Linked DNA regions of Homo sapiens. The protein of the gene in region 4 purifies or fractionates together with the protein of the main gene of each other region. This does not show direct contact. Each region holds a gene or a part of one and is shown on either strand. Other genes may lie near its edges. The genes, in order: TSPAN5, OSTM1, TSPAN14 and ITGA3.

Evidence for each region.
Region 1: the proteins of ITGA3 (region 4) and TSPAN5 purify together in Homo sapiens (co-immunoprecipitation; one large-scale study listed by IntAct). This does not show direct contact.
Region 2: the proteins of ITGA3 (region 4) and OSTM1 fractionate together in Homo sapiens (co-fractionation; one large-scale study listed by BioGRID). This does not show direct contact.
Region 3: the proteins of ITGA3 (region 4) and TSPAN14 purify together in Homo sapiens (co-immunoprecipitation; one large-scale study listed by IntAct). This does not show direct contact.

What each region holds. Positions count from the first base shown.
Region 1 is NC_000004.12:98,648,881-98,656,692, forward strand, and holds part of TSPAN5 (tetraspanin-5), read right to left. Parts: intron 1-7,812. UniProt on the Homo sapiens protein: Part of TspanC8 subgroup, composed of 6 members that interact with the transmembrane metalloprotease ADAM10.
Region 2 is NC_000006.12:108,051,794-108,059,605, forward strand, and holds part of OSTM1 (osteopetrosis-associated transmembrane protein 1 precursor), read right to left. Parts: intron 2,795-7,812; coding exon 2,697-2,794; intron 1-2,696. UniProt on the Homo sapiens protein: Required for osteoclast and melanocyte maturation and function.
Region 3 is NC_000010.11:80,458,685-80,466,496, reverse strand, and holds part of TSPAN14 (tetraspanin-14), read right to left. Parts: intron 7,213-7,812; exon of another isoform or gene 6,913-7,212; intron 3,410-6,912; exon of another isoform or gene 3,370-3,409; intron 1-3,369. UniProt on the Homo sapiens protein: Part of TspanC8 subgroup, composed of 6 members that interact with the transmembrane metalloprotease ADAM10.
Region 4 is NC_000017.11:50,059,110-50,062,609, reverse strand, and holds part of ITGA3 (integrin alpha-3 preproprotein), read right to left. Parts: intron 1-3,500.

The DNA.
Region 1 (7,812 bases), on a different chromosome or scaffold from region 4:
CAGGACCCCATCCTGGATGGACCTACTGAACCAGATCTCCCAGTGGGAAGACTGAAATTTCCTTACTAATCAGGCTGCCACACTACATGCATAAAGGGGTGAAATATCAACTAATCCTACAGAAGTGACCCCTAGTTAGTGAGAGGGACTTCCCATGCATGGAGAGATTCCAAGAGATAAAAACCCACACGAGGAGTAATTTTTTTAAAAATGTACTTTGGCCATCAAGATTCAAAGACATCTAAAGGCTAGAATACTGGTTCTTTTCTTTCTTAAGTGGTGGGACCCCTTTTTTCAAGCAAAATCTTTCTTAGTATCCCAAAATATCAAACTAATAACCAAGCTTTTCTGGAGGAAAGAGAGGTACTGCTCAGTCCACACCCCACCAGCACAGACCCACCCACCCACATACGCCTCAAGGAGGCCTAGGATTGCTGGTAGCAGGTTTGAAATCCAATGGGCCAGAATAAGACATTTAAATGGGAGAAATAAACAGAACTAAATCTAAATTCAAATAATTAACTGGAGGGTTAGGGCTTCTGATTAGCATATAGCTTAGGGGGATGGTTTAATAGAGTTCACTTGAAAAAGTGAAGGTTTTATTTCACTAAAAAGTCAATCCAAGCCAAAGTGTTCGTTGGCTGCCAGGGAAAGCAAGTGCAGTTTAGCCTGGGTTAATAACTAGTATTTGTATTTAGAGATTTACCATTTATGAAGCACGTTGATATGCATGATCTCACATAATACTGGATAACAACTTTGCAGAAAATTATTTTCCTGGTTTTTTTAGATGAGCAACTGAGGAACTAATCTGTGAAAGTAACTTACTCAAAGTCAATTCCAGACAGTAGCAGAGGCTTCTGCCACCAGGCACAGCACAGCCTAGGGACTGAAGGGAGAGTTCAAGAGCCTGCTGCTCTTCGGATGGTTAGAAAAGCCTGTGAACAACGTGTTTCATTCTGGTTGCTGCATTAATAGAGGTGTGTCCAAATGGGACCCTAGGCAGAGCACCGTGACCAGGGCAAAGAACAATCTGGAAACAGTATATGTAGACCTAACACTCTAAAACCGAACCCTGACATGCTCTTCAACATCTCAAAAGTTACTCCACATCTCTGTACTCCAATTTCTTCATCTGTCACAAAGATATAATATGTTTGGAAGACTCTTTGAGATGCTTACAAGAAAAACATCATTAGTGTAAACACATGGAGGAACTAGGAGCTTTTAAAGGTGGAAAACAGAATGTTTAGGAATGACATAATGGCTATTTTTAAATAATGAAGGACCATGGGGAAGGAAGATAAGTCTTATTTTACATCATTCAAGAGTAGCCGAGGCTCTTCGCCTTCTCCTTCCTGAAAATTCAAAGCCATTAGGTAGGTCCAATCTGGTAGGCTTCCTACGTTTACAAAAACGTAGGAAGAGGGATGCTGTGGAAGCCCAGAGCAGGGTATCTCAGGGAGAAAGGTATCCATATGGGGATGGGGGTGGTGGCACAGGATGCTAGAGCACTAACAGCTGAGGAGGGCAGCCCCAGGAGGAAAGGTGGTGGCAGCTGCAGAAGATTGGTTACATATGGGGAGATTTACCAAATAAGTAAACTGTTAAGAATAATGCGAACCAAGAATCTCACTGTCAAATAAAGCAGTTATAAAATATGGAGAGGAAAAACTAAACCCTGTGGTATCAGACAGGAATTTAAGGTATGACTGTAAACTCATGGTTTTAAAAGTACATAGATACAGAATTACAGATGTACATGTGTGTCTGTATATACACAGAGTAGCAACACCCTAATAGCAATGAGCACACCAAGCAACCAGATCTTGGCTTCTAAATTCCATTCTCCATTCAATAGCTCCTTGGAGAAATGTCTGATACAAAAGATGACACAGGTAAATCACAAAATGAGTTTGGAACATCTTATTCTGCCAGAGAGCAAGATGGTGCTCAAAGACTGATGGGAGTTAAAAGAGCACAGGAGCCAATGTGAAAAGACTGCACTGGCCAAACCTAGGGCCATTTTAAATAAAGTAATGACAGTAACATTAAACCACACTGAAAAAAGGAAGACACTAAGTTCTTACTGATATAAATAAATAACAGATTGAAAATTTGATGAGGAATAGGCTATTTACATGGTTTCAATGTAATTTGCCATAAAACATTTATAAATTACAAATGAGAAAAGAGTAACTATATGGTAGAGAAGCCTGGCAGACAACACCTTGATCAAGTGACCATCATCAGTAATGGGACAAACAGAAATCAATGCCACCCTGATAGGGTACAATGAGAACGCAGCACCATTTCTGTACTATTCCTACCAAAGATGCACAGCCTGAATCTAAGCTTGTGAAAATGGCACAAACACAAACTGAGGGACATTCTGCAAAATAACTGGCTTATAATTGTCAAAAGTATCAAGAGCATGATAGTGAAGGACTGAAAGAGACTAAAAACATGTAACTAAATACAAAGTGTGGTTCTGACCTGAATTCTTTTGCTTTAAAACATTATGGGAGCAACTGGGAAACTTGGATGAAATCTAAGGATTAAATGGTGTTAATGTATCATTGGTAATTTCCTGGCTTTCATGGTTGTACTGTGGTGATCTAGGAGAATAGTCCAGTTTACAGAAAATACATACTCAACTGTTTGTGTGATAGCCAACATGCTGGCAACTTTGTCTCAAACAGGATAAAAACAGGTTCTCTATACTACTTGCAATTTTCCTATTGGTTTAATGTTTCCAAATAAAAATTTTAAATGAACAGTAAATTAGGAGGATGGAAATGATGGGGAGACAGATAACATCTAGTTTGAACAGATGAAACTCTACAATTAAAGTGGTCCAAAAACAGATCCATGCTTAGAAAGGTAGGCACGATACAATGGAGAATGCTTCACTGACTAGGAAGTTAGAGGAGATGATTCCTACGTACTTTCTGATGATTTTGTAATTCTTTCCTTCAACATACTTTTTTTTTTTTTTTTTTTTTTTTTTGAGACAGGGTCTTGTTCTGTCACCCTGGAGTGCAGTTGCAGCCTCAACCTCCCAGGCTCAAGTGATCCTCCCACCTCAGCCTCCCAAGTGGCTGGGACTACAGGCACGCATCACCACACCCAGCTAATTTTTAATTTTTAATTTTTTTTTGTAGAGATAGGGTCTCACTATGTTACCCAGGCTGGTCTCAAACTCTTGGGCACAAGCCATCCTCCAGCCTCAGCCTCCTAAAGTGTTGGGATTACAGGTGTAAGCCCCCAAGCCTGGCCCAAACGTTTATCAAAACATCTACTGTGTTTCAGACAATGCGCAAGACACTGGGCTTATGAAAGTGAGACAGCCCCCACACTTGAAGCCCTTATAATCCAGTGGAGTATGATTTATTTGGAAGTTAGAAATTTTAAGACAGTCATCAGTATTACACACAGAAACAAACATGTGATTCAAGAATGCTGTCTACAATACTCCAATTTTCATTTATGAATTTTCAATAGGCTACAATTATTCCACCATATTCTTGAAGAACATTTTCATCCTAACTTTTTTGTGCTTGTGGGTGGTGTTAATTGTGGCATATGCAAAAACTTTATCACTTTTCGATTATGAACAGATGTAAATGACTTACTTGATGTTTTATTTTAGAATAACAAGCATCTTCTAAAATAAGTCTCCACCCAAAAAGCTGGGGCTATCATTACGGAAGAGACTTAACACTCTGAAACTGAACCTTGACATGCTCTTCAACACCTCAAAAGTTACTCCACATCTCTGTACTCCAATTTCTTCATCTGTCACAAAGATATAATATTCTTGGAAGACTCTTTGGGGTGCTTACAAGAAAAACATCATTAGTGAAAAGTTCTGTTAAAAATGCAGATTGCTTTCACCTTTTGCCAGGGACTACCTATTACTGTGGACATTAAAACAAAGTGACCCATCTAAATGAGTGCAACATTTTGGCAAGTTTATGGTGGTTGAAACATGATTTGGTTTTCCAACTTCTCCCCACTTGGCTTCATTTCAATCTGCGGAGTATATCAAGTGAGAATGCTTCTGCGCCTTCATACTGCCCCACAGAGGGAGTGGCCACACTAAGCAAGCCTATATTCAATTACTTTCCCCACTTTATACCTTTCTTACACTTTTCCCATATGACACTTTCATAACCATATTTAGCTTTCTTCCTACCATCTCCCTGTAATTCAAAACGCAATTTAGATTCCCATATGGTTGCCATCGAAGCTAACAGATGTCTAGCAAATTAAAACAAAAATTATGACTTATAAACTGCTGATGTATCATCATTCCAGAACATCTTGCAATTTATAGTGAATCATAAGATAAAGCTTCCTACTTGATGCCCCCCCTCCCCCACCGCCCCAAGGTTTCCTGAGTCTCCCTCCTCTCTGAATTAAGCCCTGTGGAAGCAAATTAGAGGCAAGATCCTGCCATCAACCCTGGATAAACTTGCACTTAAAGACACAAGGTAATATCTGAAAGCATATCAAAAGAGAAAGTTGGCCTCAAGTAACTGAGGCTTTTCTAATCCTTTGTAGCAAAGAAAACAGAAAAATGACTTGGTTCTCCCAAATCATTCCACCGTTTCCATTGAGTTCTTTCCTAACAAGTCACTATAAAATCTATTGAATCCATTTGCCTCATCTTCTTGGCAGATCTTAAGGGTATTATCATTACCTAGTAGTAATGATGCCAAAGTACTAGACTAAGGCATTCTAGAAGTTCTATAGCCCTGTATGGAACCAGTATAAAATCTGGAGACAACAACAGTAATGATATTCACTATTTGTTAAATATTGAGATATTATGCCGAATAAAACATTATCTCACTGAATCTTTAAAACTACAACACCATTAATGTTATCTTTCCTTTATAAACAAGAAATTAAGGCTCAGTGCCTTAATACAGTAGACTATATTTTTCAAAGATGGCCACAACCTACATGACTTTCTGCAATGTGACCTTGACACTTCTCCATCAAAAGGTGGCTTCTAATTCTTCACCCTTTGAAATTCAGCAGTCTGCATGAGTGCTCTAACCAATGGAATAGATAAAAGTGGCACTGCCAGTTCTAAGTGGAACCTTAACTGGCTGGAAGCTTCTTTAAGACTTAGAGACAGGAAGAAGCCACGTGTAGGTAGGTGCTCCAGTGACAACTCTGGCTAAGCTCCCAGCAAGCATCAGCTTCCAGTCATATGAGTATACCATCTCAGGCATCCTGCCCAGAGGGCCTTCCGGTAAGTCCAACTCCAACTACATCTCACCACAACTGTATGAGACCCCAAGTGAGAACTGTCCAGATGAGCCTGGCCAAATCACAGAACTGTGAACTATAATAATAAACAACTGTGTTTTAAACAACTAAGCTTGGAGGTTATGTAGCAATAAATAACCAGAATATTGAGATCAATTTACTTGCCTGGGAACAGTTAAGTATCCAGAATCCAAAACAGTTAAAAGCCAGAATCCAAAAGGGCAAAACATCTATTAATGATGAGTGATGGGATGTGGTGTTCGGTACCCCAAAGAAATGACTTTAAAACAAAATCCTCTTTCTTCTCCCTCCCCCAAACCCAAAGCAGTCTCAGGGTTTTCTGAGAAATGTCCCAGTACGGTGACACCCTCAATAAAATCAATTCCCTTCTGTCTTGAATTGTTCCAATATATAACAGAGGAAACAAGTTTTCCCCCACCAGCCTGTGATAACTAATGAGAAAGGAATCTGTACAAGATGTTGACTTTGTTACTCAGAATGTCATTACAACTGTTATATAAAAGGATTCAGATTTTATACATGAAGCTGTAATTCTAATAATAAAAATATATTTAATGACTCACAGGACTACATTTGAGATTCACAGTGGGGAGAGAGAAGCACGGACACTATACCAGGAACTGAACAAGCCAAGAAGAAATTAGTGAAAGGTTTTTTGTTTTGCTTTGTTTTGTTTTTTTTGAGACGGAGTCTTGCTCTGTTGCCAGGCTGGAGTACAGTGGTGTGATCTTGCCTCACTGCAATCTCCACCTCCCGGGTTCAAGTGATTCCCCTGCCTCAGCCTCCCGAGTAGCTGGGACTACAGGCACCCGCCAACACACCTGGCTAGTTTTTTGTATTTCAGTAGGGACAGAGTTTCACCATGTTGGCCAGGATGGTCTTGATTTCCTGAACTTGTGATCCGTCCACCTCAGCCTCCCAAAGTGCTGGGATCGCAGGCGTGAGCCACCGCGCCCAGCCTTGGTTTTTTTTTGTTTTTGTTTTTTGTTTTTTGTTTGTTTGTTTTTTATGAAAGGATCTTTGAGGAAGAAATGAAAGTAATAAAACTAGTCTTCAGACAAGTCTCCCTAACAGAAAATGTCTATAATTTATCACGTGTCCTGGTATATACTACTTCTGTTATAAATTAGTGGCCAAACTCTTCTATTTTTCTTCTCCAGCATATTGGAACTCAAGAAACTCATTCTGTGTAAGAACTAGAAAGAACGTTATAACTCATCCACCTCCTTCAATTTAACAGCTGAGAAACTGAGGCCCAGGCAGTTAACTGATGAAGAGCCAAACTGCTGATCAGGAAAAGAACCAAGCTCTCAGTGCTGGTGCCACCATATGTTCAATTTTATTTTACCAGAACTATACCTTTGAATGTCACCAGTGTATGTCAAATGTAGTCTAGCAGTTCAGTGTGAAAATGAAAATTAGGAAACCATGCTGTTGGCAATCTCTTCTTCATAATTGTATGGGAGTAGCACCGAGTCTGCTGTTTTTGGCAATCACAGACAGGTTGGTGACTCTGTAGAGAGCAGAGGTGTGTAACTTTTCAGAAGCAAGCTGCCAAGCTACTGACCCCAGCTTTTCAGTCACTAACATCTTAGTCTGAATTACTTTAACCAAAACCATATGGTTGCCTTTCTGTTGATCATCACTAGAGACCATGGTACAATAAAGCAGGAAATTTAAATATGGGGTAATTTTGAGGCAGAGAGCAGGATAGGAAAGGTATGAGGGAGTATCTGAGAGGAAGGCTTTGGGCACAGAGAGGAGAGGAAGGGAAGGCAAGAGGCAGGGTAAGTGAAGGGCCCTCATAAGGAAGGCACTCACTTAACAATTCTGCCTGGGGCAGCTAGTTTAGTCCCATAGCCTAGGTCTCCTTTCAGGCTTCCCATACTCACCCACCCACCTATGAAGACCTTCACAATCAGAAAACATGCGGCTCTGTTCTGGACCTCTCCAAGCAAGCACTCTGCAATTCTTTGAAGCTCTCTACAATTCCAGGGGTTTTGCTGCAACCTAATCCATAGAAAGGGCTAAATTTGTCTCTATGCACTCCACAGAATTACAGCAAACTGTCAGGGAAACAGACCCAAATCCTTTTATTTCCTTACCACCCCCTGCTAGGAAACGGCAGAGAAAGTCCCTGGGTGCTTTTTGTTGCTGGGTAGCTAAAATGTGCAACTTTTAGAAATGTTCAAGTAGAAACAAGAGGCCTGAACTCACTACCCCAAAAAGAACCAGTCCCAGTTCGGTAGTCCGTGCCTCTCCAAGTCACAAAGTTTCAAGTTCCAATCAAATCAGAATATCTTACTCAAAACCGTGGCTACCCACCACTTTTAAACATTTTCACAAATGGAGAAGGGGCAAAGAAAGAAAATAATTCCTTCTTCCTGTACTTGTAGCAGTGTTTAATTGCAGGGAGGTGGGTGACTGCTCCCGGGAATCATGCACAACACTGGCAAAAAACTGCCTGTGGAATGATCGGATATGACATCCATTCATGTGTCCCCTCAT
Region 2 (7,812 bases), on a different chromosome or scaffold from region 4:
AACCTAAAATGAGGATAGTGGAGGTACATAAAATATTATGCTACTAAATCTCAATATTTTGTACTTCTAGACTGACACTTGTCTTTTCAAGAATAAGTTTGCTAAACAGTCAGTTCACACCTTTGCTTTCTATGCCCTTTATTCTTTACTTTGTAGTATGAAGAAAGAATATTAACTGAACATTGGGATGAAAGAGAAAAGAGAAAAATCAAAGTAATTACACTGATGTTGGCCCAACAATGTTACCCTCACCATCTGCTTGACAGAAAAACTAAGTCTCTCCTTAGTCTGCTACAAGAAATAGCCCATTGCTTGTTTTTCACAGAACAATTGTGCACTTAGTTAAAAATTGAGCACAGGGCTGGGCGCGATGGTTCACACCTGTAAACCCAGCACTTTGGGAGGCCGAGGTGGGCGGATCACAAGGTCAGGAGATCGAGACCATCCTGGCTAACACGGTGAAACCCCATCTCTACTAAAAATACAAAACTTAGCCGGGCGTGGTGGCGGGCACCTGTAGTCCCAGCTACTTGGGAGGCTGAGGCAGGAGAATGGCGTGAACCCGGGAGGCGGAGCTTGCAGTGAGCCGAGATCGCGCCACTGCACTCTAGCCCGGGTGACAGAGCGAGACTCCGTCTCAAAAAAAAAAAAAAAAATTGAGCACATAATCCATTTAACTAAAATTGTGCACATAATCTAGATGGGGAGTAATTTAACCTTTTTTTTTTTTTTTTTTTTTGAGACACGGTCTTGCTATTTTGCCCAGGCTAATTTCTAACTCCTGGGCTCAAATGATCCTCCCACCTCAACCTTCCAAAGTGCTGGGATTACAGGCAGGTGCCACCATACCTGGCCACAATTTTTATTCAAATTTAAAATGCACATATCTTTTAATAATGTGAAAGTTGCAGACATTAGGATGAAATCACCTTTTGACAGACCAAGACAAAATAGAGACAAAAAGAGTCCTTGTTTCCAAAGACTTTCTAAAAACCCCACAAGAAATCCTTTCACGCCCTTCATTGCAACTCCTGCTTTCACATGGTTTATCACTGCCATTCTTTAGGACTGCAGTAATTCAGATAAGATGCACTCAAAAGAACACTTGCCCAGTAATGGCATCGCCACCAATGAACTGACAACTTGGCTTTGAGCCTCAGGAACCAATGAACTCAGTTTCCAAGCAGCTTGTGTGAACCTCTCCCTTTTTGCTAATAAAAGCTTCCCTTTACCCTTCCCTCACTGGATGTACTGGTGGTTTGCCAGTGCATTCCAAATTACCATACTTCTTTCTTATTCCCTAATAAACTCATCATATTTGGAGATAATTTTCTCTAGTGTCTTTTTCTTAGGCTGCCAATATAGTAATTCTACTTCTAGAAATCTACCAAACTCATACAAGTACTCTAAGTTAAATGAAAAGAAGACTGTTTATGGTGTACAATTTAAAACTTATTATTTCCAGAATTTTCCATTTAATATTTTTGGACTGCAGTTGGCCACAGGTAACTGAAACTGTGGAAAGTGAAGCCATATATAAAAGGGATGACTTTATAGAAAAATTGCTATTTGAGTGTTACAACACACATCAGTCCACTAAAGGCTCTGAAGTCCTGTAGTAAAGCATTTCCCAACCTTAATGGAATACTAAACCCTTTCTGATAGGACATCTATTAACATGCTGCAGAACAAATTCTGAGAAATGTTCACCTAATTTTTTTTATTTTATTTTTTTGAGACAGAGTCTCTCTGCAACGCCCAGGCTGGAGTGCAATGGCACGATCTCAACTCACTGCAACCTCTACTTCACTACAGGCGTGCACCACCAAGCCTGGCTAAGTTTTGTATTTTTAGTAGAGACAGGGTTTCACCATATTGGCCAGGTTGATCTCGAACTCCTGACCTCAAGTGACCTGCCTGCCTTGGCCTCCCAAGGTGCTGGGATTATAGGCATGAGATACTGCACCTGGCCCAATTTTTATTATTCTCAAGGAAATTCATAATTCAGTGTTACCACATTTATTACAGAAGAAATCATACATGCTTATACCCTAAGCATGTGTACATCTACTATGGGGATTACTTACTTGTTATGTAAGTTTCAAAACTACATTTTAACCAGAGTTCCAACCTCGTCCTTCACCACGACCGGGCAAGTTCCAATACCAAAATTCAAGAGTCAGAGATAGAGATGGCAATAATCTACAAGGTTAAGATTCTTAAAGCTACCTTTTATTATCATAATTCAATACTCAAAGTTATCTTACTAAACAGTGCTTTTTAAGGTAGGTAAAACATACTTAAGCAAATTTCAGGCAAAGAATAAACTTCCTATAGACAGAATCATACTACACTGCAAAATACCTACGTAAGTCAGATTGAAAACCATTGTGTTTTAATTAAACAATCACACACCTCAATCAATGTTTTCACAATCATTATCTCACCAGATTCTCATTACAAAATACTTTAAGATAGGCAGGATAGATATTATCTCCATTTTACAATGAGAGAACTGAGGTTTTCATGATTTGTAAGTAGAAGAACTTACTTAAGAGCAGAAATCCAGGTCCACTAACTCCTTTACATCATGAATTTAGATAAATATCAATAATTAGTGCTCTAAAAACTTGGAACTGCACATTATTCCTTTGTACAAGGCAGCATTTTAATTTTAAATATTATATATAAAATACCTGAAGGTTATGTTCAAAGCAGGTCAGGGTGTGATTAAATAGATTAAGGAAATATACTGTGCTGTTTGATAATTCTTCACTGTTGTTTGTTAAACAATCTGTCAAAAAAATTCAAAAAGTATATTAATATAACTCAAGGAACAATTCTATGTTGTCATTTATATCTTAAGCTATCAGCTTCGTTTCACACTACAGTAATTCTTTATTCAAACAAGCATGAATTTTCCAAATATATGAAGCTTACTCCTTTTATTTTCCAAAAGTTAAAAAAGTCATAACCATTTTCATGAACATGTTAAAATAATCACATACTCTCTTTTCATAAAAATATACCAAATAAAATTCAAATGGACTTTTGATGGCACAAGGTCATAATCACGGAATATCAGCTATCAAATGCTGCCTTAACAGTGCTATTTAGGCATAAGACTGTTTACCCTGCATTAATTTTACCGAAACTCATATGCCTTATCATTTTTTGTGTCAAATTTCATAGTTCTCTGCATCTTCCAACTTCACTAATGAGTCATTTATTGTACCTAATGGGGTAACTTTTAAAATTCGCTCTTTCTAATCCATCACGAGTTGGGAGCCCAGAGAAACAAACTGGTGAGAATTTTGCCTAAAATACTGACGTGGGGGCTTCAAGTAAAGTCTAGAAACAAAATTGTTTTACATTTTTAAAAATCCTACATAAATGGTATTTCTCTGCAACTGGCTATTCTTGCTTAGAGTTAGCTCAAGTTCACTCATCCCTTTTATTTTCTATGTATGTGTATATCACAATTTATGTATCCATTTTCCCTTCTTCAGGGAATAATCTATTCTTCTTTTTTTTTTTAAGAAACGGGGTCTTGCTCGGTTGCCCAGGCTGGAGTGCAGTGGCACAATTTGCCAGCTCATTGCAGACTTGAACTCCTGGGCGCAAGTGATGTTCCCACCTCAACCTTCCAAAGTGCTGGGATTACTTAAAGGCATGAGCCACTGCGCTCAGCCAGGGAACCTAGTCTTTATCCTCAGGTAAACCTTTGTCTTTACCTCTCCTTGTGTTCTCAGCCTGCTATCTCCAATCGAGGTTCAACTGCCTGGTTCCAGATCTTGGAACTTGTGGTCAGTCGTTTCCATCTGACTCTCCTAGAATCCTTGCCCTCTTTATCTTCCACATATTCACAGCCATTTTCATCCCTGGACAGTCCCCATCTACTTTCTGTACTCTCAGTCTGGTTACAGAATACTACTACAGAAATTCTAAAATGATAATGAAGGGACTCAATTCAAATTCATGTGTTCTGATCTCGGGGCAACAAAATGATCCTTGTAGATGCCCTCCTAATTGCTCTGCAAGGGATGTTCCACATATTTTCTCATCTCTAGTCCCAGCCCTACTCTTGTTCCCCTTAATTTCAACAGATGGCTTTGTATTATGCCCACCTTATTTAGAAATTCAGGGCCATCAGATAGGATCTCTCTCAACTGGAAGTGGAAAGACAACATGCAAAGCTATTGCAATTACCCAGGAGAAAGGCAGCAAGGCAAGTAGAATTTGTGGAGAAAAGAGAGACGGACTAGGTAGACACTAGGATATGACACACTAAGGGACATCCATGTACTCTGACAGACAACAATTACTACAACGAAAGTTAACACTTACTAAATACTTGCTATGTTCTAAGAACTATGCTTACACTGCACTTTAAACACATTTGCCCATTTAATTCTTGCAGTGATTCCATGAGGGAAAAATTATCATTATCTCCATTTTATAAATAAGGAACAGAGATAGGTTTAGATAAATTAAGGAAGTTGCCCAAGGACATAAAACTGGTAAGTAAAAAGCTAGACTCTGTACTCAGTCTGATTCTTGAGCCTGCACTCTCAAACACTGCAAAATAAACATATTTATATCTACATTCTAAACCATTAAAAGTTCAAGACTCGGAATCTACAAATACATGCCACTGCCTACTCCCTCCACTACCCATAGATATCTTACACCATACAGGGATTCAGGCAGTCCCCACCAACTGATCAGAGTTAGCAACTGAGATGAAACCTAAACCTGGTAGACAGGGGCAGACAGCACAGTAAAGCTCCTTTGTGCAAATCAGAAAAAGATATTCCCTCTGGGTAGATAAATTACAAAAGGTCATTCCTGCCTCCAGAAGCTAAGCTGGAATTCAGCCCCATTCACCTCCTTGTACAGCCCCCTTGTGCAGGGCTCCTTCTGCACCCATTGTACACAGGATCCTCTTGGTAAACCTATTTCAGGAGTTGTCCCCTCTCTGAACTCACATACTCTACATTCTCTGAAGCTTTATCTTCTCCAGAACATGAATCTCATTCTAACTTCTCACCCTTATTTAAAAAATCTGAGGGATCACTACAAATTAGGAAACTAAGCCACAGAAATAGGTGATATGCTGATGATCATACCACAAGTTAATAAGCCATTGATATAAAAATAGGCCAGCATGGTGGTTCACACCTGTAATCCCAGCATTTTGGGAGGCAGGTGGATTGCCTGAGTCCAGGAGTTCGAGACCAGCCTGGGCAACATGGTGAAAACCTGTCTCTACAAATAATACAAAATTAGCCAGGCATGGTGGCGTGCATCTGTGGTCCCAGCGGCTTGGGAGGCTGAGAGGGGAGAATTGCTTCAGCTTGGGGAGGTCGAGGCTGCAATAAGCTGTGATTGCGCCACTGCATTCCAACCTGCATGAAAGAGTAAGAACTTGTCTCATTGCCCCTCTTAATGCTAGTTTAATATCATCATGAAGTAGCCCGCAATCCTTTTAGGGATGAGGCAGAGTTGATATAAATAAAAACAAACAATTACATAGTTTTTGTACATGTTTACAAAAACAATTATATAGTTTTTGTAGTTGATGTGTTGCAGGGAAGTTAAGGGAACACAATTTCATTCACAACAGTTGTACATCTGTGTTATAATGAGCTATGTCGTGACAACTGACATAACAATATAGGGATAAAAGGGGTCCACATACTGCCAGCAAAAGTAGTATAAAGTGCATTATCATGAGAGAGCAATAGCAAATTTCTTCTATGCAAGATACCTAATTAAAACAAATAATTTCTTTTGCAAAAGCAATTTATAAAGAAAGCTTCTCTGAAGAACAAAAGAACTTAATTTCTTTTATTAATAATTACATTAATGCATTACCATCAAAACTTTTTCAATGATCATTAGATGGTGGTAACATAAAGCATAAAGCAGTTCATTTATATAATGGGGTTAAAAAGTCTTCATTATTAAAAAGCCATGACTTTCTGAATCGAAATAACAGATCTCTAGTAAATTCCTTTTTTATCTTTTTGCAGGAATTGGGAGCTTAAGATTATAAACAGTGAGAAGCTGTATGTTTTAGAAATTGGTGAGTTAAAGAATATTAATAATAATAAAGCTTCCTTTAAGCACTAAGTGAAGTGGTCATTATGAATTTCCTTCATCTTAGATAATCAATGGAGCCTCATCAAGGGCAGATTAGCAGAGTGGCTTTCTCAGAGAAGGCTCAGGCATCAGCTTAAGAGTCAATCTTTTTTTTTTTTTTTTTTTTTCTGAGACAGAAGAATCTCACTGTCACCCAGGCTGGAGTGCACTGGCATAATCTCAGCTCATTGCAGCCTCCAATGTGCCTGGCCTCAAGAGGCATTCTTAAAGGTATTAAGGATTCAAGTTAAGACCTCACAGAGAAACCTACTAAATTATCATAACAGGAATTATGCATCTTTAAATAAAGCATTTGGCATCTCTTAGGAATTTTACAAAGATCTTTGCTGTTTTTCAAAACTAGTTTTATAGAAAATAGCAGAGATAATCACCAATTTAGGGTAAGCTTCAGAAAATAAAAATAAACTACGGCAACTTTGTACCTAAATGACCTAATTAAGTTTAACAAATATGAAAACTAAGATACTTTAAATTATAAGATACAAATAATATGATTATAACGCTTAGTACATTTCCCTCTGGATAAAATATGGGAAAGAAAGGTTTTGGGCCGGGCGCAGTGGCTCACGCCTGTAATCCCAGCACTTTGGGAGGCCGAGGCAGGTGGATCACGAGGTCAGGAGATCGAGACCACGGTGAAACCCCGTCTCAACTAAAAATACAAAAAAAGTTAGCCGGGCGTGGTGGTGGGCACCTGTAGTCCCAGCTACTCAGGAGGCTGAGGCAGGAGAATGGCGTGAACCTGGGAGGCGGAGCTTGCAGTGAACTGAGATCGCACCACTGCACTCCGGCCTGGGTGACAGAGCAAGACTCCGTCTTAAAAAAAAAAAAATGTTTTGGTTAATTGACCTTCTGGTTAATCATTAAGTACTATTGTTGTTGCTTTTTAAAGCATCAAGACATACATTGTATGTGTTAACTGAAAGTTAGTTTTCCTCTGATGAATCAGAATATACATCGGGATTACACAGTGGTTCAACAGCATCATTATGCTCATTAATTATCACCCAGATCACCTGTATCACTGAAGATATAGGTTGCTCATAAAGAAAGAGTTTTCAGTGTGTAAGAACAAATATCTGAACTGATAATTTTGAGGCCTATCTCATTATAATAATGCTTCATACTGGATACTGCTTACCAAAGAACCAAAACACTAAAGCAGTCATGAACTCATCAAATCTGGTCATTCTGCTGATTATTTAACTGCTGTATGCACAAGATAAGCAAGAAGGGTCTCAATAACAAGGCTATCCCTATGTCAACAATACACACCTTTAAAATTCTGAGAAACCTTTAATATACTCTCTTTACTTTTTGGCAGTCATTCTCCATCAGAAACAGCTAGTTTCCATGTTATTTGTAGTATGAGTAGAAAAAGTTGCACTCTTAACACTTCTTTTGACCTTCCATCAATTTCCAATAACCAGATTCCTACCAAGACTAATACCATTTGAAGACACAGGAATTCTGAGAAGAAAAGGGATGGGAGTAGTACATGGATGGCATTCTCTCCTCTCTTGGATTCCTAGCCTTCCTTTCATGAATAATAACTGCAGAGACTAGATGCCACCCCTATTTCAAGCTAAATTAAGCAGAACAGAAAGATAGTTTTGGGCAGTATACTCATTTTAATAATATTCTTTC
Region 3 (7,812 bases), on a different chromosome or scaffold from region 4:
TTGAACCCAGAAGATGAGTTCGAGACCAGCCAAGGCAACATTGCAAGAGTTCGTCTCTATGAAAAATTTTTAAAAATTAGTCGCGCATGGTGATGCGTGCCTGTGGTTTCAGCTACTGGGAAAGCTGAGGCAGGAGGATCACTTGAGCCTGGGAGGTGGGGGCTACACTAAACCATATTCATGCCACTACACTCCAGCCTGGGCAACAGAGCAAGATTCCATGTCAAAAAATAAAATAAAATGAGGACACTCCAAGGTGCAACCCTATCTGGGGCTGAGGCTTGCTTCTTGATTTGTAAGACTTGGCTGATAAGAGAATCAAATAAGACAGCCAGGATGGGTTTTGAAAGGGTAAGCTATAATGCTAAACACATGAAAACTAGTGGGAGTTATGAGTTCTATACAAAACAACTCTATTTCAAAGGCAGGTGCCTTACAGATTCTGTCTGTGGTTTAGAAAGGAGACAGTATGGGTTGGGGCGGGCACACCTCAGATAGAGAAGTCAGACAGCGGGTGAGAGTGGCCTTCACCCCGCCTGCAACCCCACACATAGCTGAAATTGTACCCCAAAAGAGAATGCTCATTTTGCCCACCAAAAAGTGGTGGGGGAGAGAAGGGAGAGATTCAGATGTGAAGAAGCAGGGTACAGTTCCCCTCAGTTAGAGAAAGGTCCTCACAACCATAAGGACCAAAATAAAAAATATTCTTAACCAATCCTGCCTCTGTTTTCAACAAAGACCAGGAGATTAAGAACGAGCATCCTTTGTGCCTGAGAGTGGCTTTTTCTGCCAAAGACCCGGAGGCTAACTCTCTCTCTCTTTAGTGTGCACCTCAGTGGCCCAAAACAGGTGAGACCTCTCTCTGTTCCCACTGTAGGTGTCACTATCTTTCTGATCCAGTAAGAGGGGATACTCTGTGCTTCTCTCAGCATGGCTGGGAGATAGGGGTACAGCCAGAGGAATTAGGGGTGCAGCCAGGGGGCTGCCATGCCTTTGGCTCAGTGGGCAGATTCATGTCACAAGGGTTTCCACCCCACCAGCGCTGTGTGCTGGCTGCCTGCTGCCCACTGCCAGCCTGAGATTCAAGAGCCCGGAGATGGCAGAACAAAGGAAAATGGCTGTGGCTCCTGCAGCGGGGGTGGCTGCAGGCTGAGCTGCCAGCACACAGGCTTTTCAGCAGCTGAGTGCTCGCGTGAGGAACGGGAGCACTGGGCTGAGCACTGAGGCACAAAGCAAGTGGGGGGCCTGGGAGACTAATAGCAACCCAGGCACGTGCCTGGCCCCCACCCAAGGGCACAGCTGGGCCGGGAAGACTCGGCAGAACTCACTCCCCAAAGCAGTGGGCAGGTGGCCGACAAGCCTGGCACCGGCCACTCCTGCTCCTTGCCCAGCTGCTCAGAACTCTTACCCAGAGGTGTTCCAGGCAAGCACAGGGACTTGAGAAGGGCGAAGGGGGATCTTGACAGAGGCAGAAACTAGAATCTGAGAACACATGATGGGCCTTGGAGTGGCTCAAGGCTGTCTGCAAATGGACCTCTATTAAGCATAAAGGGCTCCTGCTACCAGCAACAATAGTTGCACTGACCACTCCCTCTCCCACTCTCCTCCTTCTCTAGTTCCCTCCCACCCTTCCCCCAAAAAAATCTACAATGGGAAGCAGCAGGAAACCAGGGCAGAGCCCCTGAATAGCTCCACTGTGAGGCCCCAGGTCCCGCCTCCTCAGCTCCACAGGTCAGCCCTCACTGCCACCAGGCCACAATAGAAACCTCTGTGCTACCAAGGACCCAGGCCCAGACAATGAGCTGCACATGGGAAGCTCTGGCCTTCTCACGGGGACTGCATGTAACCGCAATGGTGAGAAGTTCTCTGAGTAGAAGGGTGGGAGAGCCATGGCAGGGACACAAGCCTCAAACCCACCAGGTCAGGGTCTATTTAGGAGGTCTATCTGCCAGCCAGCCCTAAAGTCTCCCTGCTTCCCACCCTGCCCTGGCATGGGGCAGTGAAAGCCACACAGGGAAACAACCAGAGAGCTCCCAACACAGAGTGGGCACCTCCAACATGCTCTCACGACTGTCCCTCCTTCCCCACCCATCCCAGGAAGAACCGTACCCCATTTCTGTTCTGAAAGGAAGCTCCCGCTCAAAACACAAAACCCATCTATTATTTTCACCAGGTGCCTTTTACACAGGCTTTTAAAATCACAGGGTGGCAACCAGGCCCAAGGCGGCCTGAACAGGGAGGTGTGCAGAGCAGCGAAAGGCCAAGGGAGGCCAGAGAAGGAGGCCGATCCTCACACCAACCCCTGACACTGCGGGAAAATCTGCTCCTCTAAAAGCTGACGCCAGCTCCAGCTTGCTGCAACCAACGCTCCCCCTTCACACCCCACATAGGTCCTGCAAAGTCGTGAGGTTGCTGGAACCCACTATGAGAAGCCTGCTCCCCGCCTCCCTACACCCCAACTCGCTCTGGCTGACTCCTCACACTTTTAGGGGCACAGGCTGCATGAGCCAGAGGGCCAGCCAAGGGCTGTAAATATGGAGGTCACGGAGACAGGCTGGCCTGAACTGAACCAAAGATGGACTTGGGTGGGAACCAACACGCTGGCACCTCTCATGCCTTCCCAGTAGTTTCTCCAGCTCTTGTCTCTGTAGAAGGCCAAGATCCCTCCAAAAGAAAACTTTGTAAACTTTCATTCCCCCTTTCGGAATCAAAGCCGCATGTTTCTTTTCCTTTTACACACCTAATGCAGTAACTCCACATCTAGTCATTTCCACTACAGACCTGCAGCATGCATAAGACACTCCTGCAGCTTAGCCTATAGAAACAAAACACTGAAAGCAACCTCAAAATCCATCAATAGAGAGCTGGTAAAGTGAGTCATCATTCACTGTGCAGCAGAATCATGCACTGCTGTTAAAAAGAATGGACTAAACTATGTGTGCTAAAATGGAACAATCCTGGGATAAATTCTCAGAGTAAAAATCAGGAAGTGCAAAACAGCATAATTAGTATACCACTGGGGTAATAAACAAGAGAGGAATACAGTCATGCTTGACTAGGCACTGAACATCTGGTGACAGCGGCCTCAGGGGAGCAGAACTGAAGGGGTCAGGGATAGAAATAGGAGTTTTCACCGTGTATCTTTGTTATGTGTTTTTCATCATGTATACATTTTTGTAAATAAAAATGTTAAACCTAAATTAATATTTAAAATGCCTAAAGTTTGTGGCTGGACACACAATTTTACCCGTAGCTGTCTGCAGGCAGCTTCTGGTGTTTCCCTAGAACAAGGCAGAGTAATGGGGAGGGGAAACGAAACAAGGGGAAGGAGGGGGTCAGGCAGTGGCAGCCTCAGGGATACAGACTCACCAACTCACAGGGCTCCCTGCTTTCGACTCCACCCCAAGTCCTGAAATAGAAAGTTTTCCTAAGAAGAGCAAGAACAGATTCTGACAAAGGCACAAAAGAAACCAGACCATCTGCTGCCAAGCCCACTTCATGATAAATCTGTAAGACCCTAAGATTCAGGCAATGTAGGCGATGCAGGAGACGGGACTGAAACCCAGGCATCCCGGGCATCCACAGGGACCCTTCTCTGAGCCCTCCCCACTCAGTCATCAGTGGAGCTCGAGGTCCTAGTGCTATGAACACATCCCAGTTTCAGCAACTAAAGAAAGCTATTTCAACAGATTTCTAGGCCTGGCCCAATTCCAAGGACAGGCTAAAAACAGTTTCTCCAAAATCCCAGCTCAAAACCCCATTCCCTAACCACTAAACTCCATGTACCTTCCAGGAAATGGAAGCTGCAAAATGGAGCTGTGAGATGCACTTGTAGATTTATTCCTCACTAAAGAGATACATATATGTTGTTTAAAAGCTTCCTTTAACTGACGTGTCAATAAATACTCTGCACTCAGAAGCACTGATATACTTCCTCCAAGTGATTTTTCCCCCTAAGGAACAATACAAAAACCATTCCAGCCTTTCCTGCTGCTGAGGGGAATGACACAATGACCATTAGAACCAGGACTGGCCAGACCATTTGAGTGAGAGATGTGTATGGCAGGGAGTGCTGCATAAACAGAACTCTATCTATGTAGAATAACTCCTCCACCCCACCCCACCCCATCCCATCCCATCCCACCCCATTCCTACGCCCTAGGCCACCAGGGCGGACAGAAATAAACACCTCCTAATGACCTCAAGCTCAAAGACCGCCCAGACCACAGGGAAAGAAGGCCAGAGAGGGGGAATGGGTATATTTGGTTCCCCTTACAGAATAAGATGCTTTCTGAAGACTGCTAAATATGTTCAATAAGTAGCCCCTGAATTAAGAAGCACAAATCAAGTGCCCAGGAGTTTGACACCAGCCTAGGCAACATAGCAAGATCCAATCTCTACAAAAAATTCTTTAAATTAGCTGGGTGTGGTGCTGCATGCCTGTGGTCCCTGCTACTCAGGAGGCTGAGGCGGGAGGATCACTTGAGCCAGGAAGGTGGAGGCCTCAGTGAGCTGTGATAGGGCCACTGCACTCCAGCCTGGGCAACAGAGTGAGACCCTGTCTGAAGGAAAAAAAAAAAAGGCACAAATGAGATCTCACAACAGTGAGAACCATACTGGCACCTGAAGCCCTCGTATCTCTTTCTGCTCCTCTCGGTGGCTCAGTGCAAGCCCTCAGCAGGTCTTGCCTGTAATCCCACAATCCTCTGTGAAACCAAGACCAGCCCCTCTCCAACCGTCTTTCTGCAGGAGTGAGCAGAGCCCAACCCAGGCACTAATCTTCAACACACCAAATCCTGGCACCTGCCTTTGCCACCTCATCAGTCATGCCATGGAGGGGAGCGTCAGGGCTACCCTACACCAGAGGAGCCCTCAACTAAACCTGCCCGCCCCACCCCATCCTGGGCACATGCCACTTGTTCCTCTTTGCTCACACACTTAGCACCCCAGAGCCCTTGGGAATGAATCCCCCACCACTACCACCAACTCTGATTTTGGCATGCCCCCCTCAAAAACCTATCCACGTTTATACCATCACTTGTATTTCACAAGAAGCTACTAGAGTTACAAAACACAATGACTGTGGTAGGCAGGATGGCTGCAGAGAGCAGGGTTCTGGCACCACCACTGTTCCACTGCAAGGGTGGAAGCTGGCTACAGAGCCTTTAGGAAGGAGGGAAGGCCCCATCCACAGCCGACAGGTTTTCCTTACAACAGCAAGGGCCTGGTTCCTGAAAAGCTGACTGTTGAGACAAGATCAGCCTCAAGAAAAGGAGGCAGGCCAAACAGGGTCACCTGTGCAGGGTAGGCTGGAGGGAGCCGGCCCTCAAGAGAGGCAGAGTCTGATCAAGTAGACAGGAGGGCCAGAGAGAAAAGGAGGAGCCTCACTCATGGAGGAGGAACAAGGTAGGCTGGAGGCAGGGACTTGTAGGCCTCAGACAGAAGGAAGCTGGTGAAGCTCCCATAGGCAAAATGCCCAGGAGCTCCGGCTAGAAGGCAGCAGGAGTGTGCAGTCCAGGCAAGAGGAAGAGATCCCCCACAGCACCTCCCTCTGCCCAGCTCAGACAAATGGGACAGTCAATCCCCAGGCTGATGGAGGCGGGAGCGAGAACCACAAAGTTGTCAGACTGGTTTGCCCAGGACAGGGAGAGCAGGGAACACAAATTGCAGCAGGAGCTCAGCTTCAGGGGGCAGAAAAAAGCAGCAAAATTGGTGGGCTGTAGGGAAACAAGGACCCAGGTCCATGCGATTTCCTGGGTGCAGAGGGGAAATCCAGCAGGCCAAGAGCAAGGGAGCCAAGGGACAAGGGGCCAGCAGATGCTGAAAAGGACCAAGGTTTCTGGAAAAAAAGAGAGTGACACTTACAAGAAGGGACACCTACAAGGAGAGAAACCTGTCCCCTACTCTTACACTGGCCCAAGCTCAGGACCACTCACACCTGTCTCCTGAGGGACAGGCCAGTGCAAGAAGAATGGACAGGACACTGCCAACCACGGGATACTGACAGAGATTCTGTCCCTCACCAAACTTTATTCCTCTGAGCCCTCTACTCATCTGGTCCTGACCTAGGGTTCCTAACTCCATTCTCTCTAAGAGCCTAGTTTTAGCAAAACTCCTGTTAACCAGAATCCCCCAACCTCAATATCTAATCACCCTGGATATCTGAACGTATTTCTCATCCTGTACTATCTCCCAGGTAAAACCTGATCACCCTGGCCTGCCTGCAGCAAGAATTCAGTTAGCTAAGTTTAGTAAAAATTTCCCTACCCTCTTAGAAATTTTCAGGAGCCCCCACACTCCGCTCCTTGGCTATAAGTTCCCACTTTTCTTTGTTGTATTTGGAGTTGGCCCACTCTCTCCCCTCTACTGCAAAATCCATTGCGATAATTCCTACATCTATCGTAATAGTCCTGATACAGTCTACCTTACCAGTTTAACAAGTGTCAGAATTAAGTTTTTCTTTCACCAGCTCCCTAAGTCTTCCTGGACCCACTGCTCCCACCCCTCACTCAGGGTGTGTAAATTACTTGGTCTGGGGCTGTGGCTGACCTCCCCTAACAAGCCCCAGAAAAAGACCCTGTCTGCCTGGCCCAGGGACACAGGAGAGGACCCTCAGCACAGCTGGTGGGCACCCAGACTGGGGACAGACACACTCCTACTGCTGAGAGTCCCATAGCATCCCCAGGATCACCACTCAGACCTCGGGGTACAAACAAGAGATTCGGGAGAGGCCCATTTCCTTCCACTGCTGTGGGGCCTCTCTCCTGGATGTTAGGGCTCCGAACTCCTCTCAAGGCCGTGCAGTGTACAGGAGCACAGGCCCAACAGCTGGGACTGTCAACGCATAGTCAGGCAGGAAAAACCCAGAGAAGGTTCACTAGCCCCTTGTTCCAGTCCCTCCCCAAACCTTACCCATGCAGGACAGCCCAACTCCAGCTCTCCCAAATGCCAGGAAACACAAAGACTCTGAGGCAGCACCAGGAGCTCACCTCTTACCAGAATCCCAGAAGCCACTTTAGAGACAACTGCCCCAGCTCTCAGGCTCCCAGCTCAGGCCAGCACAGCCTAAGGAGGGAGGAGCCAGTTCCTCCAGCTATCTAGCTGAAAGGCACAGGCTCTAGGCCTTCTCCCTGGCTGCTCAGTTGGGAGGCAGTACAGACCGCAAGGGGTGAAGAGTTTCAACCCCAGCCTGCCCAGGCCCACTTAAGCTCTGGTCTCCAGGCCTGGCCTGCTGCCTCCTAAAAGAAAACCACAGCCCCACCCAACCCTACCCAACCCCACCAAGCCCAAGGGCGGAGGAAGTGAGGTTCCCAGAATCAGCTGCTGGTGAACACTTGCTGAGTGCCGCCAGAGATGGCAGCTGTCTCACACCAGTGTCAGGCCTAACTCAGGGGCTTTGGATCTTGCTTCTCAGGGTACTAATGCTTCACTGCAACCCCGTGAGACAGAAAAGGCAGACTTGATTCTTCTCACTTTACAGATGAGAAAAGTAGACAACTTTTTTTTTCCAGGAAGAAAAAAAAAAAAAATCAAAGACTTGTGTAGGTCACTCAACTAGAAAGTAGGTGCAACTTGAAAGCTTGCCTCACCACCGTCCACTCTGCAAGCTGGACAGTGTTATTCATCTTCACATCTTCACGTTTAATTGAGAGCGGCACTGGACACTGCCCCCCTGCCAGGGCCTGCGCTCCACCAAAATGGCTACTTGCCCTGTCTAAATCAAAAGCATACGCAATTAAGGGAGAAAATGGATGTGGAGATATTATGAATAACCTCCCTGATTCACAGTTACAGAGGACACTACTATAATGG
Region 4 (3,500 bases):
GCTGGGAAGGGGGTGGGACCTTGCCTATACTTCAAGACAACAGCTCAGACCTCACCCTGGGGAAGTGTTCCTGGGAGAAGGGGTGAAGCTTCCTGGCCAGGGAGGCTGGCAGGGGGCCAGGGTGGCAGCCAGGCCTGGAGAGTCACTTCTCTCTGGGCTGGGAAGGCCTCGATGAGTCCACTGCCTGACCACCCATGGACATCCGCTCTCTGGCGTGCCTGACAGATGAGAGAAGGGACCCACAGCCTGCGGGAAAGGAGCATCTCAGCCTGAGAACCCACGGACCTGGGTCTAGGGTTTGTTCTGCCTGAAGGGGCAATTTCCTTTCCTTCTCTGAGCCCTGAGTGCCCCATCTGTAAAATGGGGGCAGCCCCTCTCCTGCTGACCTCCAGGGTTGCTAGAGGAACAAATAGGTCTATTCTACAAAAAGGTGTTCTGATATGAAGCCATAGCTAATGTGAGCATTGTTGTTCCGATTTGTTGTGGCATCAGGACTGGTCTAGCATGCCTCCAGCCCTCCCTCCAGGGACCCAGGAATTTCTTTTTTTCTTTCTTTTTTTTTTTTTTTTTGAGACAGGGTCTTGCTCTGTCACCCAGGCTGGAGTGCAGTGGCACAACCTCGGCTCACTGCCACCTCCGCCTCCCGGGTGCAAGTGATTCTCCTGACTCAGCCTCCCAAGTAGCTGGGATTACAGGCATGCACCACCACGCCCAGCTAATTTTTGTATTTGTACTAGAGATGGGGTTTCGCCATATTGGCCAGGCTGATGTCGAACTCCTGACCTCAGGTGATCCACCCGCCTCGGCCTCCCAAGTTACTGGGATTACAAGCGTGAGCCACCGTGCCTGGCTGGACCCAGGAATTTCTGCCCTGGCATGTTAGGGAACCTGGAGCAGAGGGAAAAGAAGAGACTCCTTTGGTGGTTTAGAGAGATCAGCAGGGAGACATAGGAAGACTTCCATGGCTTGAGGATACCAGGTGATCACTGGGGTCAGGGTGGGAGCGCTGGCAGCTAGAGTCACTCTACAGCGGGGGCTCAGATCTGGCTGGAGGTGGAGGTTGGGAATTTTCTACAGTGACACTAAGGGGTCCGGGCCTCAGTGGGAGGCCGGGCCTTGGGCACGCCTGTAATGGAAGTGTTGCCCCCTTGTTGCTGCTGCTGCCCTGCCCATGTTGTCATACAGGAGGCAGCTGAGCAAAAGGGTCTCCATGCCCTCCCAGCCCCCTCAACTCAGCCAGGAAGGGGCTAAGGGACTCCCTCCTCTGAACTTCCCAAGGTACTGAGCAGGCAGAGCTGGGCACGCATGTCAATCAGATTGAAATACTTCCCCTTACCACCAATACCCTCCTGCCTGTTGCCTGGAACCAGCCTTATGCCTACTGATAGAGGGCAGGGCAGGGCCAGTGCCCTAATCCCAGCCCTACATCCCAGGCCCCTCCCTCCTCAGAGATTCCAGAGTGAGCCCCCGCTTCACCCCCCCAGAGTATTTTTAGCTTCCACTTGGCCCACTCAGAGGCCCTTTAAGGCCCTCTGGCTCCCAGCCCAGGATCCAATGGGTCTACAGCCAGAGGCCTGCACATGGATGGGGGAAGGCGGGTGTGCAGAGGGTGGTTCCAGCTTCCTCCAGCCACACACACCCAGGTGTGTGCGGAGGGGGTTGGAGAATCCTGAAGGTGAGAGGGACCTTACTGTATGCAAATGAAATGCAAATTAGTACACAAATGAGCAATTCTGCCAGCCACCTGCTTTTAGGTCTGGTCCAGATCACAAAATCCAAAAGCTGACCCCTTCCAGAGCAGTACTGAACCCATCCCCTCAGCTGCAGCCAGAAGGAGGGAGAGTAGGTGGAGGGATGCCTAGATGGAGCTCTTAGAGCAAGGAAGATAGGAGATGGGACTGCCCCTCTCCTGGAGTCAGGCTGGACTGGGGGGAGCAGAGACCCCCAGCCCCCCAGATGGAGTGGGATGGGTGAAGTGACTACTCAAGGGCTTTCCAACAGCTGCCTCCTCACCCTCCCATTGGCTCCAGCCAAACAGCCCCTCTTGGCCTCTGCGGAGCCCCTTGAGCTCCAAGTTCCGAAAAAGCCCTTCCTTACCCCTGCCCTATCACTCCCCTTGGGGCAGTTCAGAGCTAATGGAACAGCCAAGGAGAAAGCAGAAGAATCAAAGAAGGGCGCGGCACAGTACCCAGGAGAATTCAGGGTACCAGGTTGGCTCACCTCAAAGAGGAGAAGGCCCCTGGGGGCACTGGGGTGGGGTAATGCTCAGAGAAGCAGCCTGTAAGATTCACCTTCCCAGATTCTGTCACCTCAGGGAGGCACTTGGTGGCTCCATGGGAGGATTCCAGAGGGGGCCAAAGGATCTAGCACTCAGGCCAACATGGCAGGGCCTCACTCCTTGGGTACCTAGCCTCCTGTGTTCCCCTCCTATCCCCGGCCGGGAGGCAGGTGGGGAGGGTGCCTGCTCCACCTCTGAGCCCCAGAGAAGGGGTGGGGGCAGCTCTGGGATGCCTGGATCCCAGCTCTATGCCAGCCTTGCTGCCCGAATTAGCCATCTCCCCAGAGGCCGGCCCTGTGGCAGCTGAAACTGCAGCCCTCCCCATCCTTCCTGACCCTTCCCTTGCTGCCCACCCAGCCCCCTCTCCCCACTGGTGACTCAGCCCTAGAACCAGAGCAACAAGCTGGAGGGAGAGAGAGAATGAGAAAGGACAGGAAAAAGAGCCCTGGCTAAGCCTCAGATAAAAAAAGAACAAGGCCATTTTTCTCAGTTCTGCTCCCTTTCCTTGGCTCTTCAGTATTTTTCCTGTATTTGACCCCCGAGGGCATTCTAAGTGTCATCTAACCTCAATTCCTCTTACTGCAAAGGGGATCTTCTTCCTTCTTTGTTTACTTCTGACCAAGCCCCCTTCGCTGCTGCTTTTTCTACAAGATCAGGCTTCCCCTACTCCTGCCCAGTTGAAAGCCTCTTGGCCTAGACTGGTCACTGGGTAGAGCCAGAGGAAAAAGATACTACACGAGCAGGCCTTCTGCCTCCAGCCACAGCTGCTGTGCCCATTTCTGCTGGCACGAACCTTGAAGGCTGCCAGGCACCTGCTTTGCCCAGGGAAACATGATGTTAGGAGAGCATGGCAGGTGAGCCTGGCTCCTGCGTACCTCAGGCATGACCTCATTTCTAGGAGCCACCCTGCCCTGGGCTTCCCAGATACCCTCATTTCCAAGCAAAAGTGAAAGAGAGAGAAGGACCGGCAGTATCCCCATAGGCCCACAGGGTCAGGCCAGACCAGAATGCCTGGATTCCCAGGAGGGAATGTCAGTGCAGGTGCTGGAGCAGAGAGGGTGTCAGTAACCACCTCCCAGAGAACAGTCCCTGTCCCTCCAAGGAACCCCTCATGCATCTTGCCAAGAAGCCCAGAGCACTTTGGTCCTCTGCCTGCTCCTTACCCCTCATTTCCACAGACTAGGAGACTGGGCCCTGGGTTGGGGCTAGCCCCCTATGTTGT